Linked DNA regions of Homo sapiens. The protein of the gene in region 1 interacts with the protein of each later gene in a pairwise test. Each region holds a gene or a part of one and is shown in the gene's direction. Other genes may lie near its edges.

Region 1 (8,892 bases):
ATTAGATGACCACTAAACTAATGGAACAGAGTCTTCAATGGTTACACACTACCAAGAATACATACTTTAAAAAATTAATTGATAAAAATCACTACACAAATGAATAGCAACAACAAACCTGGGGGAAGGGGAGAATCTGATTTCCAAAGTTGCCACATTATGTTGTTTAAAACATCCAATTTTCAATGAAATATTGTGACACATACAAAGAAACAAGAAAGTCTGGCCCATACACAAGAAAAAAAGATCAGTCAATAGGAATTGTTGCCAAGAAAGCTCCAATGTTGGACTTACTAGACAAAGACTTTAAATCAGCCCAGGCAGGTGACTCATGGCTATAATCCCAACACTTTGGGGGCCTGAGGTGAAAGGATCACTTGAGGCCAGGAATTCAAGACCAGCCTGGACAACATAGTTGTCCTATCTCTACAAAAAAATTAAAAATTATCAGGCATGCTGGCACGTGCCTGTAGTCCTAGCTACTTGGGAAGCTGAGGTGGGAGGATTGATTGCTTGAGCCCAGGAGGTTTAGGCTACAATGAGCTATGATTGTGCCACTGCATTCTAGCCTGGGTAACAGCGAGGCCTTATTAAAAAAAAATACACATACATACATGTATACATATTTTTTCAAAGAGATAAACTATGTCTAAAGAAATAAAGTATAAGAATGATGTGTGAACAAGTAGAGAACATCATAAAGAAATTATTTTTTTAAATATAACTTTCTTGAGGTGATAAGTACAATAACTAAAGTGACAAATTCACTAGAGAGGCTCAATAGCAAAGTTGAACAGGTAGAAGAAAGAACAAGTGAACTTGAAGAAAGATTGACATTAACCAGTGCGAGGAGCAGAAAGAAAAAGGAACAGAGCCCTGGAAGCCTTTGGGATATAATTAAGCATAACAACATAAAGATAATGGTAGTCCAGGAAGGAGAAGGAAGAAAGAAAAGGGCAGAAAGATATTTGAAGAAATAATGACTGAAAATATCTCAAATTTTTCAAAGAATGTTAACATATGCATCCAAGCAACTCAGCAAACTCCAAGTAGGACAAACTCAAAGAAATCCACACCTATACACATCATAATCTCTGTCAAAAGCCAAAGACCAAGAGAGAATTTTGAAAGCAGCAAAAGAGAAGCAAATCATTAAGTACAGATGACCCTCAGTAAGATTAACATCTAGTTTCTCGTCAGAAATCATGGAGGCCAGAAAGCAGTAGGATAACATATTCAAAGTGCTAACAGAAAAAAAACATCAGCCAAGAATTCTATATCCATAAAGAAAATCCTTCAGAAATGAAGAAGAGTGGTGACTCACTCCTGTAATCCCAGCACTTAGGGAGGCTGAGGCGGGTGGATCATCTGAGGTCAGAAGTTCAAGACCAGCCTGGCCAACACAGTGAAACCCTCTCTACTAAATATAATTACAAAATTAGCTGAGTGTGGTGTTGCATGCCTGTAATCCCAGCTGCTTGGGAGGCTGAGGCAGGAGAATTGCTTGAACCTAGGACGCAGAGGTTGCAGTGAGCCAAGATTGCACCATTGCACTCCAGTGTGGGCAACAAGAGCAAAACTCCATCTCAAAAAAAAAAAAAAAGAAAAAAAGAAAAGAAAAGAAAAAAAAAGAAATGAAGGAGAAAGTAAGATGACCAACAAAACTAATAAAAACCGAAATAATTTGTCTCCAGCAGATCCACCCTGCAGGAAATACTAAAGGGAATACTTTAGGCTGAAGCGAAAGGACACTTAAATCCACAAGGGGAAATAAAGAGAACTGGTAGAGGTAACTACACAGTTAAAGACAGTATAAATATATGGTTTTGTTTGTAAATCTTTTATTCTCCTATATGATTTAAAAGACAATTGCATAAAGCAATAGTTAATAATAAATAATAACAGCCAGGCGCAGTGGCTCATGCCTGTAATTCCAGCACTTTGGGAGGCCGAGGCGGGCGATCCATCGCCTGAGGTCAGGAGTTCAAGACCAGCCTGGCCAGCATGGTGAAACCCCATCTCTACTGAAAATACAAAAATCAGCCAGGCGTGGTGGCAGGTGCCTGTAATCCCAGCTACTTAGGAGGCTGAAGCAGGAGAATCGCTTGAACCCGGGAGGCAGAGGTTGCAGTGAGCCAAGATCACGCCATTGCACTCCAGCCTGGGCAACAGAGCGAGACTCTGTCTCAAAATAATAATAATAAATAATAATAACAAATTATACGCTTGATGATGTGTCACAGGTTTCTGAGGCTCTGTTCCTCTTTTTCTAACTTGTTGAGATGGAGGCTTACTGAATTTCCAGTCTTTCTTCTTTTCTAATATATGTATTTTAGGCTACAAATTTCCATCTAAGCAAGGCTTTAGCAGTATCAATTTTTAAAAAATTGTATCTAAGTACAGTATACATACAGAATTCACATAAGCGTAGCATTGAATGAGGCACCTGGTCAGTACTGTTTCTAAGTGTTTAGTAAATGTTTTTTATTACTACTGTGAATTGTCCTTTGCCTCTTATGCCATAGCATCCTGGCAATGGGGAGGGGTTTGAGGGTGGGATGGTGAAGAGATTCTGGGATTCCATTTTATTGGAGCATTTTTTTCCCCTTGCTTCTCATAAGGTGTCTGTCGGGGAGAGATCTGTGTCACTTATTGCAGTTTGTTGCATGCTGGAATGCTGCAGATTCTGGAATGCCATCTGTATCAGTTGTCTGGAATTTGGTTTCACATAAGGTTCTTGTCTTCTGTTTAACTGGTTTGCTGGGACTTCTGAAGTCCTGATGATCATACTGGGAAGGCAGACTCAGGGGTGGCGATGCTGGCTGTGGCCCTCATCTGCTGGGCCATGGTGGTTATTGTGTTGCTTCTTTTGCTGTGTCCTAGAACAGGGGCTTTACTGAGCCACCCATGTCCTCTGAGAGCTTTGCAACTTACAAGGACTGTTCTCTTCCTTCAGGGGCTGGGATGACTTGCTGATTTAAGCCCCTTTGTTGAGATACAGAGGTATTGTCATAATGACTGGGACTTGTGTTGCTCATCTTTGAGGAAGATTTGTTTAGGCTTGCTGTTATCCACCATATCTTTTATTTAGAGTAGTTTGCTGGCTAACTCACTGGGTCCTTTGGCCTACTGCAGATTCAGTTGCTACAACTCCGTCAGTGATTCCGTGTAGGGAGAAGTAATGGGTTGTCATTTTTGGAGTCAGGGTTGGGGGCCTGGGGTTTGAGAATCAGGTCAGAATTCATGGGTTGAGGTTTAGGGATTTGAGGTTGGGATTAGGAGGTTAGAAGATAAGCATCAAGGGCTCAGGATCTAGAGACCAGGTCTAGGATTAAAGGATTATAAATTTAGGGACTAGGGCTTGGGTTAGGATTGGAACTGAGTAGCAGAGGAGTTAAGATTAGAATAGGGGGTGGTGGTCAAGGGTCTAAACAAAAAGAGAAGAGATGCAAGGGTCTGCGGAGAGACTGGAAAAACTTTCCTCGTAAGTTCCCAAAGGTGACTGGGTATCAGGAAACTATTGGGAAGTGGCTTCTTATTGCTGCAGGGACAGAAGCCATGAGTTGGGGATAAACCTTCCAAGAGGGCAACACCTGTGTAGGCAGACACCGAAGTCAGTTAAATGTGCAAGTAAGTCTTTACATTGATGACAGTTATCGTTTATTTTCATTCTTCTCATTCTCAGTGATTTCCCTCAAAAAAAAAAAAAAAAACCCAAGAAACCAAAACACTTTTTTTTTTTTTAACCATCTTTATTCAACCTGTCACCAAGTTTCTGGTCACCTGCCACAGCTGACCCCCGATCCATTCTCCCTGTCCCCATCCTCTCCATACATCACAGTACACACCAGGAATACCCCCAGTTCTCATCTCCTCACCCTGGGCTGCGTCAATAGACTCCAGAGTAACCCAAACCACACCCTGCTGCCCAGATTCCTAATGACACGTGAAAGGCCGTTATGACTTGCTTTCCTCATGCCCTATGCACACCTGGGCTCCAGCCAAGGATCCTCCTTCATCAACCCCCATATTAGCTACGATCCTTCATGCTAATGTATCGCTCAGAGCTCAAAAGACTTTGAAGGGCCTGTGCCTTCGCTATCGAGCGCTTAAGTTCTTTGCCCTCCGCGTACTTTTGACAAATACTGGGCATCAACCATGTTCCAGGAACTACCCTGGGCAAAGAAAATAACTGGGCAAGGTTTCCATCGGTGTCTCTGCTGGCGGGCATCGCCCCCGCCGGGCCGCCACCCTGAACGAGCCCGTCCGGTCCTCTGGGTTCCGCCACCCTGCGTAGCGCTGCGCCAGCACCCGGCCCAGCACTCCCTCCCGCCGAGGGCGCCCAGGCCGGCTTCCGAGGGCGCCCAGGCCGGCTTCCGAGGGGCGGTTCCCACAAGCGAGTTCCGGCGCCCAGAACGGCTTCATCCTCTCGTCCCGTCCGCGGCAAATGCATGCGCCTGGAAAACCCGCCACCCTCCAGGGCAACTCACACCTCACCTCACGCCGCGGCGCAACCGGACTAGGACCCCGAGCAGGGCTGCCCAGGGAGCGCCTGAAGGACCCTGCGAGGGCCGCAGGCTATCCAGCGTGGCGCCTGGTGGCCGGGCCCTGTGCCGGAGGACAAGGTGAACCCGCAGCCGGACTTCTGCTGCACTGGGGCTCCGAATGACCCAGAATCTGGGGTGGGCTTAGGCCCCGGGTACGAGGGGTGAGGGCTGCGCGGTTGCAGGCCTAGAGAAGTAGGGGGCTGGGTCGAGAGTTGAGGCCGTGAGCCCGGGGGGCTGGAGGGCGTGGCCACGGGGGTAGGGGCGCAGGTCCCGGCCGCGCGTGGGTGGACCAGGGCTGGGCCGCCGCCCTCCAGGAAGCGAGTGGTGGCCCCCTCGAGTGCTGGGGTGGCAGTGTACCGACAGCTTTACTTTTTTTTTGTTTTGGAGACGGAGTCTGGTTCTGTCGCCAGGCTGGAGTGCAGTGGCGCGATCTCGGCTCACTGCAGCCTCCGCCTCCAGAGTTCAAGTAATGCTCCTGCCTCAGCCTCCCTAGTAGCTGTGACTGTAGGCGCGCGCCGTTATGCCTGGCTAATTTTTTTGTATTTTTAGTAGAGACGGGCTTTCACCATGTTGGCCAGGATGGTCTTGATCTCCTGACTTCGTGATCCGCCCGCCTCGGTCTTTCAAAGTGCTGGGATTACAGGCGTGAGACACCGCGCCCTGCCTAAAATTTTTAATTCTCATGGAGTCACCTTTAAGTCTAACAGGATTCTCGACTTGTCAGTTTGTTGTAAACCAAGAGTCAAGACAGCCACAACTTAGCTGCGTTAGTAAAGGAACCATGTCCTCCCTACAGGCCGCGTGTTCTTGCCACGAGAACCCCTAGCAGCCTGGCCTTGGAATGGCTGGATGAGGTGCATTCGTTGGTTCATTCAGATACTGTTAAGAGCCAGCTGTGTGCTAGGTACTGCTTACACCTTCTGGTGGTGAAGACGGAACTGAAGGGAACTTGCAAGGAGCTGTGAGAAAGTGTAACGGGAAGTGAGCTAAGATCACTAAGGTGGGCAGGAGGCAACCAGAGAAAGCACATTCAGGACTGCGAAAACTACTCACACAAAGGCTGTCAAGCCAGAAATTCTTTCAAAACTGAAAGGCCCATGAGGTTGGAGCTAGAGAAACTTAAGGAGTGTGGGGTTCCAGATGAGGCTAGAGAGGTACGTGGGGAACCACAAGATCATGCAGAGCCTGGGAGGCCGTGATAAGGATTTTGGTTTTTATTCTAAGAACAGGGTGCCCTTTAAAGGGTTAAGGAGGGGAACCATATGATTAGATTTTCATGTGTGGTTCACTTTGGCTGCTGTGTGGAGATTGTAGAGGTTGGCAGGACAGAAACTGGGAGACCAAAGAGGAGGCTGTCAAGATGTCCAGAGGGGAATGATGATGTCTTAGAGTTATGGTGGTAGCAGTTGAGGATGGGAGAATGGTATGGGTTTTGAGATATATTAGGTAGGGAAAATTGCCAGAAGTTGGTGATCGTGTGGATATGAAGAGTGAGGGAGGGGAGGTGTCATGGATGTCTCTGTAGACAGTTGCTGAAAATGACGTGTTACCACCTGTGGCATTAGGGAGAGTGGGTTAGCTGATCTTGTACTGGTTAGATTGGGTGTGGCTTTATGGTTTGAGTGGAAAATCAGGTTGAAAGCTGTAGAAAGGACATGAATAGGAGCGACCATGGCAGTTTCTTTGCTTGGGCCAGATTCTAATACCACCTTTAACATGATTGACAGTTTTTAGGATAAGATAAATGAGAATGTTGTCTAGACTCTGTCCCTGCCTATGTTAATGGAAGCCTTCTCTGTATTTGTCGACAAATGATTTTATATATATACACACATATATATTATATATATATACACACACACACATACACACATATGTAGTAGAGTCAGGGTCTTGCTTTGTTGCCCAGGTCAAACTCCTGGCCTCAAGTACTGATATTACAGGTGTGAGCCACTACACATGGCCAAATGAGAGATAATATTGAGATAAGATTTTGAGACAAAGTCTTTACTCCTGCAGAGGTGATAAATTTCTCACGTATAACTCGGATTTCACAATTGGAAAAGACCTCAAAATTCCCTTAGTCCAGTTTATAAAATGCTTTTATGTCCATTATATCATTTCTACAATATTGAGCTCTTACACCATGCTAGACATTAGGAATACAAAGATGAATAGAAATAAGACTATATAGGTTTATTTAGTAAATAAAATTGATCAAGCACCTTTGTGTCAGGCACTGTTTCAGATGCAAAATGGTTATGACTTGTTCCTGATGTTGGAGTTGTGTGTTGACCTCAGTGTTACCACTGAGGACAGCTGAGTGTATTAACAGGTTTGATTTGGGCACAGGAGATCCTGATCTCTCCATAATATTAGAATAGAGATGGTGTTTATCCAGCAGACTTTTTGGTATCCTGGTAGCACCTCAGTTGCTGTCCATCAATCTTCCAATTCTAGATTTGATAGGAGAGCACTATGGGATGGAAGATTTTAAGAGATGAATTCATCATTATGAATAGGCCTTGTGGATAGGCTGTTTAGGAGTATAAATTGTAAATCCTCTGTAAAATACAAAAGGAAGTTAGGAAGGGATATTGGCAGAGACAGGTAGTATTTAAACTTGAGTTTCTTTTAATGGGTAATTCCCTCATAGGCTTACAGTTGCACTAGATTGTATACTCCACGGGGGAACTTGAATGCTCCCTCTACAACTCCCCTCCCTTGATCCCATGAGCCCAAATGGGCAATTAAAATAATGTATATGGCCTTAAGATGAAACTGTCAGGTTCTTTATGAGTGTCAGGAGTGAGAGCACTCGTTGGCTTGCAAGGCTGCGTGGCTCCAATGTAGGGAAGGCTGGGAGTGCCGTCCTGAAGGGTTCCTAATACAGCTCTCTAATGGCAGGAGTGAGATGGCCTCAATCTTGCGAAGCCCTCAGGCTCTCCAGCTCACTCTAGCCCTGATCAAGCCTGACGCAGTCGCCCATCCACTGATTCTGGAGGTAAGAATGAATCCTAAGTCTCTACCGCATGCCCTGGGAATTGCTACTGCTTCAGGTGCCATTGGGCCATTTATGGTGACTGACAACACAGACTTGTGCTGGATGCTGTGGAGGCAAAGCTAGAAGCCATGAACTCTGACCTAAGGAGACTAAGAATCCATTGGAGACTTGAGGCAGACCTAAAATGTAAGAAAGGACCCAAAGCAATAATAGAACCGAATATCAAGACAATGTGTATTTGTTAGTTTCTATTGCTACATAACACATTACTCCAGACTTGAGAGCTTAAAACAACACTTATTTGTTATTTCACAGTTCAGTAGTTTAGAGGTCCAGTAGGCTTGGCTGAGTTGTTTGCTTAAGGTCTCACAAGGCCAAAGTCAAGGTATTGGCTGACCAGGTCCTTATCTGGAGGGTCTGGGGGAAGAATTCACTTCCAGACTCATTCAGGTTGTTGGCAGAGTTGATTTCTTATGATGGTAGGACTGAGGCTGCCATTTCCCTGTTGGCCTTCAGGCAGGAACTCCTTTCAGTTTCTAGATACCACTCACATCCCTCATCACATGGCCCAGTCTGTCTTCAAGACAGCTGCAGTGCATTGAATCCTTCTCATGCTTTGAATCTCTCTGACTTCTTCAGCCTCTAGCCAGAGAAAATGCCTGGCATTGAGAAGCCTTCACAATTCTAATCCCACAGGGCTCATGTGATTAATTAGGCCCACCTGGATAATCTCCCTTTTGATTACAGCAGAATCAACTGATTAGTAACCTTAATTTCCCTCAAAATCCCTGTTGTTATGTAATGTAACATAATCATATTGCATCATATTCACAGTCCTGGAGATTAGGGTGGGAAATCTTGGTGGGGCTCGGGGTCATTTTCACATTCTGTGTACCATAGTTTGATAAATACTAACTGAGTAGCACTGCTAAGTAAGCCCACTATGGTGCAGAGGAAGATCTAAGCAGTCAGGAGTGGGGGCCTGGAAGTGGCAGGACTCAGCTGGGCCTCAAAGGAATGGTAAACTTTGGTTAGTGCCAGGAGAAGGACAGGTGTTGCACAGAAGGGAGACGCTGAGGCAGGAATGCATGTGATGGGTCTGAGGGCCGCAGGCAGCCTGCGATGGTGAGACTAGAGAATTGGTACAGAGTAAGGAAAGTATAACCTTGAGCACTGGGCTAAAGTGGTTGTACTTCATTCCTTGAATAACAGGAACTACTTAACACCTTCTGACCAGAGTGTGACGTGTCAATTATAGAGTTTCTCATCTATCAAGTGTGATGGTTTGGAGGGAGTGAGAGAAACCCAAGGCAGGACCACTAACAAGACTTTTATGGTGGT
Region 2 (8,751 bases), on another chromosome or scaffold:
TAACAGTGTGGCTCCTTTCTTTGGTTCAGGTGAATGTGCCCCGCTGCTTACACTTCTCAGGAGTGGGGAAGGTGCGACAGGCTGCATGCGGTGGCACGGGCTGTGCAGTGTTAAACGGTGAGACCTTCTTTCCGGTGGCTCATTGGGAAGCTGTAGGTAGATTACATAGGGAGTGGTCAGTGTCCATTGGATTTGCAGGCCGTAGACCTTAGCCTTAGGAGGGTAACATGGCTGGGCGCGGTGGCTCACATCTGTAATCCCAGCACTTTGGGGAACTGATGCAGGAGGATTGCTTGAGGCCAGGAGTTCCAGACCAGCCTGGACAACATAACGAGACCCTGTCTCTACCAAAAAATGGAGAAATTAGCTGGAAGGCTGGGTGTGGTGGCTCACACCTGTAATCTCAGCACTTTGGGAGGCCAAGGCAGGCAGATCACCTGAGGTCAGGAGTTCAAGACCAGCCTGGCCAACGTGGTGAAACCCTGACTCTACTAAAAATAGAAAAATTAGCCAGACATGGTGGTACATGCTTGTAATCCTAGTACTTGGAAGGCTAAGGTGGGAGGATTGCTTGGACCCAGGAGGCAGAGGTTGTAGTGAGCCGAGATTGCGCCACTGCACTCCAGCCTGGATGACTCTGTCTCAATAGAAAAAGAAAAAATGAAAAATTAGCTGGGCATGGTGGTGCACACCTGTAGTCCCAGCTACTCAGAAGGCTGAGGCAGAAAGGTCCCTTGAGCCCAGGAGTTCGAGCTGCAGTGAGCTATGATCATGCCACTGCACTGGGCAACACGGTGAGACCCTGTTTCAAAAAAGGAAGGGACTATGGCCATGGGAAGATGGCATTGGATTAGAAGATGGCATTACAGGGTGTGAATGAAGTTCTTAACAAAAAGCGAATAGTCTGCGATTTATCTGTAGATACATGGCCACAGAGCTGAGTCATCCTAGAGCAAACCTCTGGAGTGGAGAGCGAACTACTTCATTCCCCTCCCTTAGCCTGGGCCAGAGAGACTCCAGCTCTGCCTTCTCCAGCCAAAAAATCAAAGGCAGATGGGAGAACAGCCTTCAGCTTTGGATAACGATGAAATATCTGGCACCACTGATGAATATTAAACTTTCTATAACCAAAACATCATTTCTAAGAGTTTTAAGAATCTGGCCAGACATTGTTGATGTGTTTGGCCTTCTGATCAGTGTGAAACACAGAGCTGTCATTAGGGGGAGAAAACATCCTCCAATTCTCTGGTATTCGTATGGGTTTTCTGGATGATTTATACGCTCGTCCCTTCCAGGTTACTAACCCTCAAGATGTGGGAAGTTTGTGTTCTGAGCCAGGAGAGCTGGCGAGACAGACTCCCCCAGCAAGAATTTAAGCAGGGGAGAGAGAATTATTATTCTAAATCTCTGTCTGCATGTTCTTGCCAAGCAAGGAGGAAAAAAACAAAACAAAAAAAAAACAAAAAAAAACCGTGTGGATGTCATAAACCTTGGTGGTGTAGTTTGAGTTTCTGGTGAGGGAGGTTCTTACTTGGATGGACTTACTGACCCTTGTTTTTACTGTAATGTAGGAGAAGGACATGTTTTTGTCTGGGGCTATGGAATTCTTGGGAAAGGTCCAAACCTAGTGGAAAGTGCCGTCCCTGAAATGATTCCACCCACTCTCTTTGGCTTGACGGAGTTCAACCCAGAAATCCAGGTTTCCCGCATCCGATGTGGACTCAGCCACTTTGCTGCACTGACCAGTAAGTTACCAAGCCCGGTGGCCCTGGTGTGAGCCCAGCAGAGGTTCTCTGTCTCCAGTTCAACCCCAAACTGCGGGCAGCTCTCAGGTTCCACCCATCCAACAGAACGGCGCCTTTGTACTGATAACTCAAGCAAGGGCTAAGCCAGAAGTTGTTTGCCTCGAGGTTGTATAATGTCTTGTTTTCCCCCCCTGGAGTTTTAATTTTGGTTCGTTTGGTTTGTGGGTAGGCTAACGTGAACGTGCATTTTCTCAAGAGAGCACCCGTCGGTGGTAGGAAGGGGCATTGCTAGTACGTCGGGTGCTGGAGGAAACCAGCAGAGGCTTGGCGGATCCATGGGTGGGTGATTAGGAAGTGAATGTGTGGGGCTTAATCCCATTCCCTGGCCGAGCCCAGACCCTGATCTGACCCAGGATATGGGATGGCAAAAGGCCGATTTGTCAGACTGTCCCGTGGTTTCACGGAGGTAAATCTACCGATTTCTCCAAAGTGCCGGGGTAGAGAATGATGAAAGGGGAGAGCAAAATGGAGGTTTTTCCCAAAGGCCTGCCAGATTACAAAGCCACAGAATATCCGCTTACCCTGCAGGGTAAGGGTAAGGAATGTGTCCTTTTCTTGGTTACATCTCTTACTCCACCACAGTTACCGTGGGTTCAATTTGCTGCTCTTTAGTTGACTCGAATAGTAAAACTGTCCTGAATTAATTTCATTCTGTGATTCTCAAGTAAATTAGTTATTTCCTTGCAATTAAAAGAATCTTTTCATCTCATGGCAAGTAATTGTTTTCTTTTTAAACATCCAGGCCGGGACAGTCAGTTGGTGTCATCTTTGGTTGAGTTCTCTGGCCTCATTCCCACGTGGGGCCTGTCCCAGATGCTCACCCTCTGTACCAGGGTCCTAACTGCTATTCACTTATTGTCTGAATTCCAGGCTCCAGAGGCCGTCAAACAGGCAGGCCTGGGTTGTTATGGCTGCCAGCTGGAGTTTTATCTGGCTCTAGGCTGAAGCACTGAAGTGGCAGTGGTCATGACTAAGCCAGAGAATTCCTGGCCACTGCCCAGCCAGAGTGGCCACTTGCATTTGCAGCTGAGTGTAGGTCTCATGAATTCTTTTTTTTTGAGTTGGAGTCTCACTCTTGTTGCCCAGGCTGGAGTGCAATGGCGCGATCTTGGCTCACTGCAACCTCCGCCTCCCGAGTTCAAACGATTCTCCTGCCTCAGCCTCCCAAGTAGCTGGGATTACAGGCACACACCACCACGCCCGGCTAATTCAGTGTCATGAATTCTTAAAGCTATTTTGATTTGATAAATAAGAGTCGTATGGACTAATTTTGGGGGAAACAAATATCTACTTTCCAGAAAGTTCTTAAGGCCTCAACTATGGGCAGAGACACATGTTTAGAAATCTGTGTGAAGCATTTGACTAGAGCAGAGGCTTTTCTATTTGCCCTCATGCCATGTAGCCATTTCAGGTCACAGCGAAATGAAATTCCTTTCTGGATTTCTCCCCGAGACTTAACAGGCCTCCTTCTAAGGGTGAGTTACTGCCTGTTGGTAGACAGAGCCTAGCTGTCTTCCTGCCTGTGTGCCTGGCATTTGCAGATAGCCATCTGGGAATTAGAGTTGGTTGGTTTATCCTGTGGTCTGCTAGCATTTTGGGGAGCCAGGCCGAATTGTTCTATTAAACACCTAAGGGCTAGCTGGGTGCAGTGGCTCATGCTTGTAATCCCAGCACTTTGGGAGGCCAAGATGAGAGGATCCCTCAAAGCCCAGGAGTTCGAGACTAGCCTAGGCAACATAGTGAGATCCCTTTTCTACAAAAAATACAGAAATTAGCTGGGTGTGGTGGTGTGCGCCTGTAGTCCCAGCTACTCTGGAGGCTGAGGTGGAAGGACTGCTTGAGTTTGAGAGTTCAAGGCTGCAGTGAGCTATGTTTGTGCCACTGCGTCGCAGCCTGGGCAGCAGAGTGAGACCCTGTCTCAAAAGCAAACAAACACACACACACAAAAACTATCTAAGGTCTGAGTGTGGAGAACAAGGGGCATGCTTAGATCAGGGGCCTAAGACAGCTTGTAATTATTCCGTACTTCATCAGCCCCAGGTCTTGTAGTCCTGGCTTTTCCATGTCACTTCCTCTGCCTCCCATGACCCAAGCCTTTTGCCCAACAGCTGATGGTGACATGGGCCCAGGAGTGCCCCAGCTGGTGCAGACAGAGTCCCACCTGAAGGCCGGGCTAGGAGAGGCCATCTCCTGGGTTGACCTCTTAAACAGCATCTTGTACTTTTTCTTCATGACAGTTTTTACAGTTTGTAAACATATATTAAAATCATCTGTCTGTTCCGTCTCTGGCCAGTCCCCAGCTCCTGGAACACAGACCTAGACCCAGCACAAGCAGGCACTTGGTCATTAGATGCCCTGTGGCTGAATGCTCCCAAGATATGGACAATCAATCCAGGAATGACAAATTGTCTTACTTTTCACTGTCAAATCAGGAAGCCCAGGGTGTCGCCAGGATTTGTGGAAGGCAGAGTTTGGTGGCACACGATTGTGGGCGGGGCACAAGGGGTGAGCAGAGTGGGCCGTGTGCATCAGTGACCTCCAGCCCCGTGCACCACCCCCAGACCCCAGCTCCATGCACCACCCCCAGACCTGTCCACCACCCCCAGACCCCAACTCCATGCACTACCCCCAGCCCTGTCCACCACCCCCAGACCCCAGCTCCATGCACCACCCCCAGCCCTGTCCACCACCCCCAGACCCCAGCTCCATGCACCACCCCCAGCCCCGTGCACCACCCCCAGACCCCAGCTCCATGCATCACCCCCAGCCCCGTGCACTGCCCCCTGCCCCATCTTCATTTGAGTGCTCATCTCCCACGTGGGTGGATGCAGCAGAAGTCCTGGCCGTGGATGTGTTTTCGATATGGGGACAGCATCTCAGACCCTTACTTTTGCCTTCAAAGAAAGCATGAACGCCTGGTAAAAGCTGAACAGTGGGCTCTGTAGGTATCTGGTTCTAGAAAGCCTGTTCTCATGACCCATCCTCTCCTTGGAGACTTGTTCTTCACACAGTCCCAACCAACCCCTGTTTTCCTCCCTTTGCAGACAAAGGAGAGCTGTTTGTATGGGGCAAGAACATCCGAGGGTGCCTGGGAATCGGTCGCCTGGAGGACCAGTATTTCCCATGGAGGGTAAGGCTGGCCGGGGAGGTCTTGAGAATGGATGCTAAGAGTAGAGTCACCTGACGTCACTGCAGACACCTCGCGTGCAGATGGGCCAGGACGAGGGCCATGGGACCTGCTCCCCCTTCCGGGTCCTGGCTGCACTCCTGCAGCGCGGCATGCTATGTCATTGCACACTCTGTGGTGACACCCATGAGATACCCGTGGTGCATCTGCATGGTGTGATGCGTGGGGGAGTGACACCAGGCTTCTTGGGGTGCAGGAGCTGGGTCAACCCATCCCGGCCCACTGACTGGGAGGTTGGAGGGAGTAGCCCACTCAAGCATCCAGTCCTATAAGAAGCCCTGTCGGAGGCCATCCTTGGGGTGGATCGGGGAAACAGAGGCACGATGGTGCAAAGGCTCTGGTAGGGTGCCATGAGGCTCCGGAGAGGGGGAGATATTGGATGAAGTTGGCACGCTAGAAGCTGTTTACAGAAGCCCATGTGGGGGAATGCTTCACAATGAATTTAAAAGAAAGCAGGATGTTTAATATTTAGATGGCCCAACCGCAGCTATGAAGTGAAAAAATAAAGTCGCTTCCTTAGGGGCGGTAGTATGCAATTAGACAAAAAGGCTCCTTCCAGAATTACAGGGGAAGAGACGCTCATTCTAAAATTGTAGTTTACCTTAGTGTTGTTTACTAAGTCAGTTCTTTAAGGCATTCTAAAAAAGGAGGTTTTTGGGGTTTTTTGAACATGAAACATATGTTCATGGTACAAAAAAATGCACTATGGAAAATGAGTCTCCCACCACCCAGTTTTTGTTCCAGAGGCAGCCACTGGTCCTGATTTCTTTATGTTCCTTTCCAGAGATAGTCTCTGCATAGAGACTGGTGTGCATGCGTGCTTTGTGTGTGTGTGCCTGTGAGTACATACATGTGTGTGCAGTGTGCATATGGGTGTATTTTATCAGAAGGTTGGATTTTAATTTGTTTTGAAATTGTGAAAAGCGTTTTTAAAAAGGACTTGCACCAGGTGTGGTGTCTCACACCTGTAATCCCAGCGCTTGGGGAGGCCCAGGTGGGTGGATCACAAGGTCAGGAGTTCGAGACCAGTCTGACCAACATGATGAAACCCCATGTCTATTAAAAATACAAAAATTAGCCAGGCATGGTGGCACACGCCTGTAATCCCAGCTACTTGGGAGGCTGAGGCAGGAAATCACTTGAACCCGGGAGGCAGAGGTTGCAGTGAGCCAAGATCAGACGCTGCTGCACTCCAGCCTGGGCAACAGAGGGAGACTGTGTCTCAAAAAAAAACAAAGGACTTGCAAAAGAAATGTGTATATATATATGTGTGTATATATATATGTGTGTATATATATGTGTGTGTGTATATATATGTGTGTGTGTGTGTATATATGTGTGTATATATATATGTATGTATTTATATGTGTGTGTATATATGTGTGTATATATACACACACACATATAAATATATATACATATATAATACATTTATATTATACGTTTATATATATTAAATATATATATATATATATTTTTTCCAAGACTATCGGTGGAGGCTCTGAGAAAGCAAGTTGAAATGGAGACTTTAACTTTGTTTTTTTGTTTTTGCTTATTATGAGACAGGGTCTCACTTTTATCACTCAGGCTGGATTGCAGTGATGTGATCACAGCTCACTGCAGCCTTGACCTTCCTGGGCTCAGGTGATCCTCCCACCTCAGCCTCCTGAATAGCTGGGACCACAGGCGTACACCACCACACCTGACAAATTTTTTTATTTTTAGTAGAGATGGGAGTCTCACTATGTTGCCCAGGCTGGTCTCAAACTTCCGGCTTCAAGCAATCTGCCTCCCTCAGCTTCCCAAAGTGCTGGGATTACAGGCATGACCCATCACGCCCGGGCGACTTTAGCCTTGTTGGAAAGCTGTTTGTATAATAGAGTTGTTCCCAAGGTGGTGGGGCTTGCCGGCTTTCTCCTGAGCCTGGAAACTGCCGGTGTGAGGAACAGAGAGTCGGGCAGTGGGTGTGGCTCAGATAATGTGAGCATCAGTCATCTACATGCCCACTTGCTTTCTCACTGACTCCTCTCTTCTCTCACTTTGCCCTTTCTTTCGAAAAGGACTTCCTTCTGAGGGGGGAACTTGGGAAACAGTTAAAGCAGCCGGGTTTTGGGTGAAAGAACGCTGACGAGGGTCTGCCCCCCGCCCTCATTTCCTTCAAATCAGAGTGATCAGCCTGAGATTTGACTCAGGTCACGTTGCCCCTGCCATAAGGGCATGTGCAAAGCGCTGGTCCCTGTGCGGGCAGGGAGTGGCCGGAGCCCGATCCCGTTGACATTCCATCTGGGTCACTTGCCCTGGCTCGCCACACACCAAGTGTCCTTCTGGTCATTTGCTTTTTATTTTTATTTTTATTTTATTATTATTGTTTTGAGATGGAGTCTTGCTCTGTTGCCCAGGCTTGAGTGCAGTGGCATGATCTCAGCTCACTGAAACCTCCACCTTCCGGGTTCAAGTGATTCTCCTTCCTCAGCCTCCCTGGTAGCTGGGATTACAGGTGCATGCCACGACGCCTGGCTATCATTTGCTTTTTAAACACATTTGTGCCTTTGGGAAAAGAGCACCCCAGCCTGTCCCCGTGACGGCGGCATTTGGCGCCAAACCATTGTCCTTCCTCTTGCACATTCAGGGAGCCCCTAAGGGTTTGTGCACGGAGTGGCCTCGACCCCTGTCCTCTTTGGATTGGGGTGGGAGAGTCCAGTCCCTTCTGATGACTCACTTAAAAAAAAAATTACAAGTGATTTTTCTTTTCTTTGTTTTGTTTGTTTGTTCTTTTAGACAGGGTCTTGCTCTGTCACCCAAGCTGGAGTGTGGTGACAGGATCTCGGCTCACTGCAGCCTCTGTCTCCCAGGTTCAAGTGATCCTCCTATCTCAGCCTCCCGAGTAGCTGGGATTACAGGCTTGCACAACCACACCTTGCTAATTTTTGTATTTTTTGTAGAGATGGGGTCTTGCCGTGTTGCCCAGGATTTTTTTTTTTTTTTGAAAACAGGGTCTTGCTTTGTCGCCCAGGCTGGAGTATGGTGTGATCACACTCACTGCAGCCTCAAACTCCCAGGCTCAAGCTATCCTCCTGCCTCAGCCCCACAAGTAACTGAGATGTGGGATGGGATGACAGGCATGTGCCAGCACCACACCCAAATAATTTTTTTTTCGTTTTTTTTTTAAGAGACGGGGTCTTATGTGTTGATCTCAACCTCCTGGTCTCAAGTGATCCTCTTGCTTCAGCCTCTGGAATAGCTGAGATTACAGGCATGTGCCACCACACACGGCTTATTTTATTATTTATATTTATTTGTTTTATTTTATTTATTTGAGAGATGAGGTCTTCCTATGTTGCCCAGGCTGGTCTCAAACTTCTGCCTCAAGTGGTCTTCCCACCTTGGCCTCACAAAATGTTGGAACTACAGGGGTGAGTCACTGGCTTGGGTGATCTTTATTCTTTAAAACAACTATGTTCAAATTAATCTTCCGTAGGGGATATATTACATCATTTAAAAAGTATTCCAGAAAAGAAGAGAAAAAAAGAGTAAAACTTTACTTGTAGCTCATACACTGGTACCAACTAGTTATTCTTAGACTTGCAGAATTTGGCCTTTTCTGAGTATGTGGGCCCGGGAGGTGACATCTGAGCCACCTGATTCAAACCTCTGCTTCCAGAAACTTTCCAGGACATGTTTTTTTGCTACACGTTGAGACTCATCCCTCAGAGAGGTTCAGTGGTTTCCCAGGGTCACATATCTAAGTTGGAGTCAGAG

What was found.
Region 2: the proteins of NME6 (region 1) and RCC1L interact in binary tests that used the Homo sapiens proteins (3 or more experiments, as listed by UniProt).

What each region holds. Positions count from the first base shown.
Region 1 is NC_000003.12:48,297,086-48,305,977, reverse strand, and holds the start of NME6 (nucleoside diphosphate kinase 6), read left to right. Parts: upstream 1-4,610; 5' UTR 4,611-4,625; exon of another isoform or gene 4,626-4,665; coding exon of another isoform or gene 4,666-4,682; exon of another isoform or gene 4,683-4,708; intron 4,709-5,343; coding exon of another isoform or gene 5,344-5,451; intron 5,452-5,457; exon of another isoform or gene 5,458-5,547; intron 5,548-7,454; coding exon of another isoform or gene 7,455-7,461; coding exon 7,462-7,551; intron 7,552-8,892. UniProt on the Homo sapiens protein: Major role in the synthesis of nucleoside triphosphates other than ATP. The ATP gamma phosphate is transferred to the NDP beta phosphate via a ping-pong mechanism, using a phosphorylated active-site intermediate. Inhibitor of p53-induced apoptosis.
Region 2 is NC_000007.14:75,048,895-75,057,645, reverse strand, and holds part of RCC1L (RCC1-like G exchanging factor-like protein), read left to right. Parts: intron 1-29; coding exon 30-117; intron 118-921; coding exon of another isoform or gene 922-941; exon of another isoform or gene 942-1,133; intron 1,134-1,571; coding exon 1,572-1,745; intron 1,746-4,849; coding exon 4,850-4,935; intron 4,936-8,751. UniProt on the Homo sapiens protein: Guanine nucleotide exchange factor (GEF) for mitochondrial dynamin-related GTPase OPA1. Activates OPA1, by exchanging bound GDP for free GTP, and drives OPA1 and MFN1-dependent mitochondrial fusion. Plays an essential role in mitochondrial ribosome biogenesis.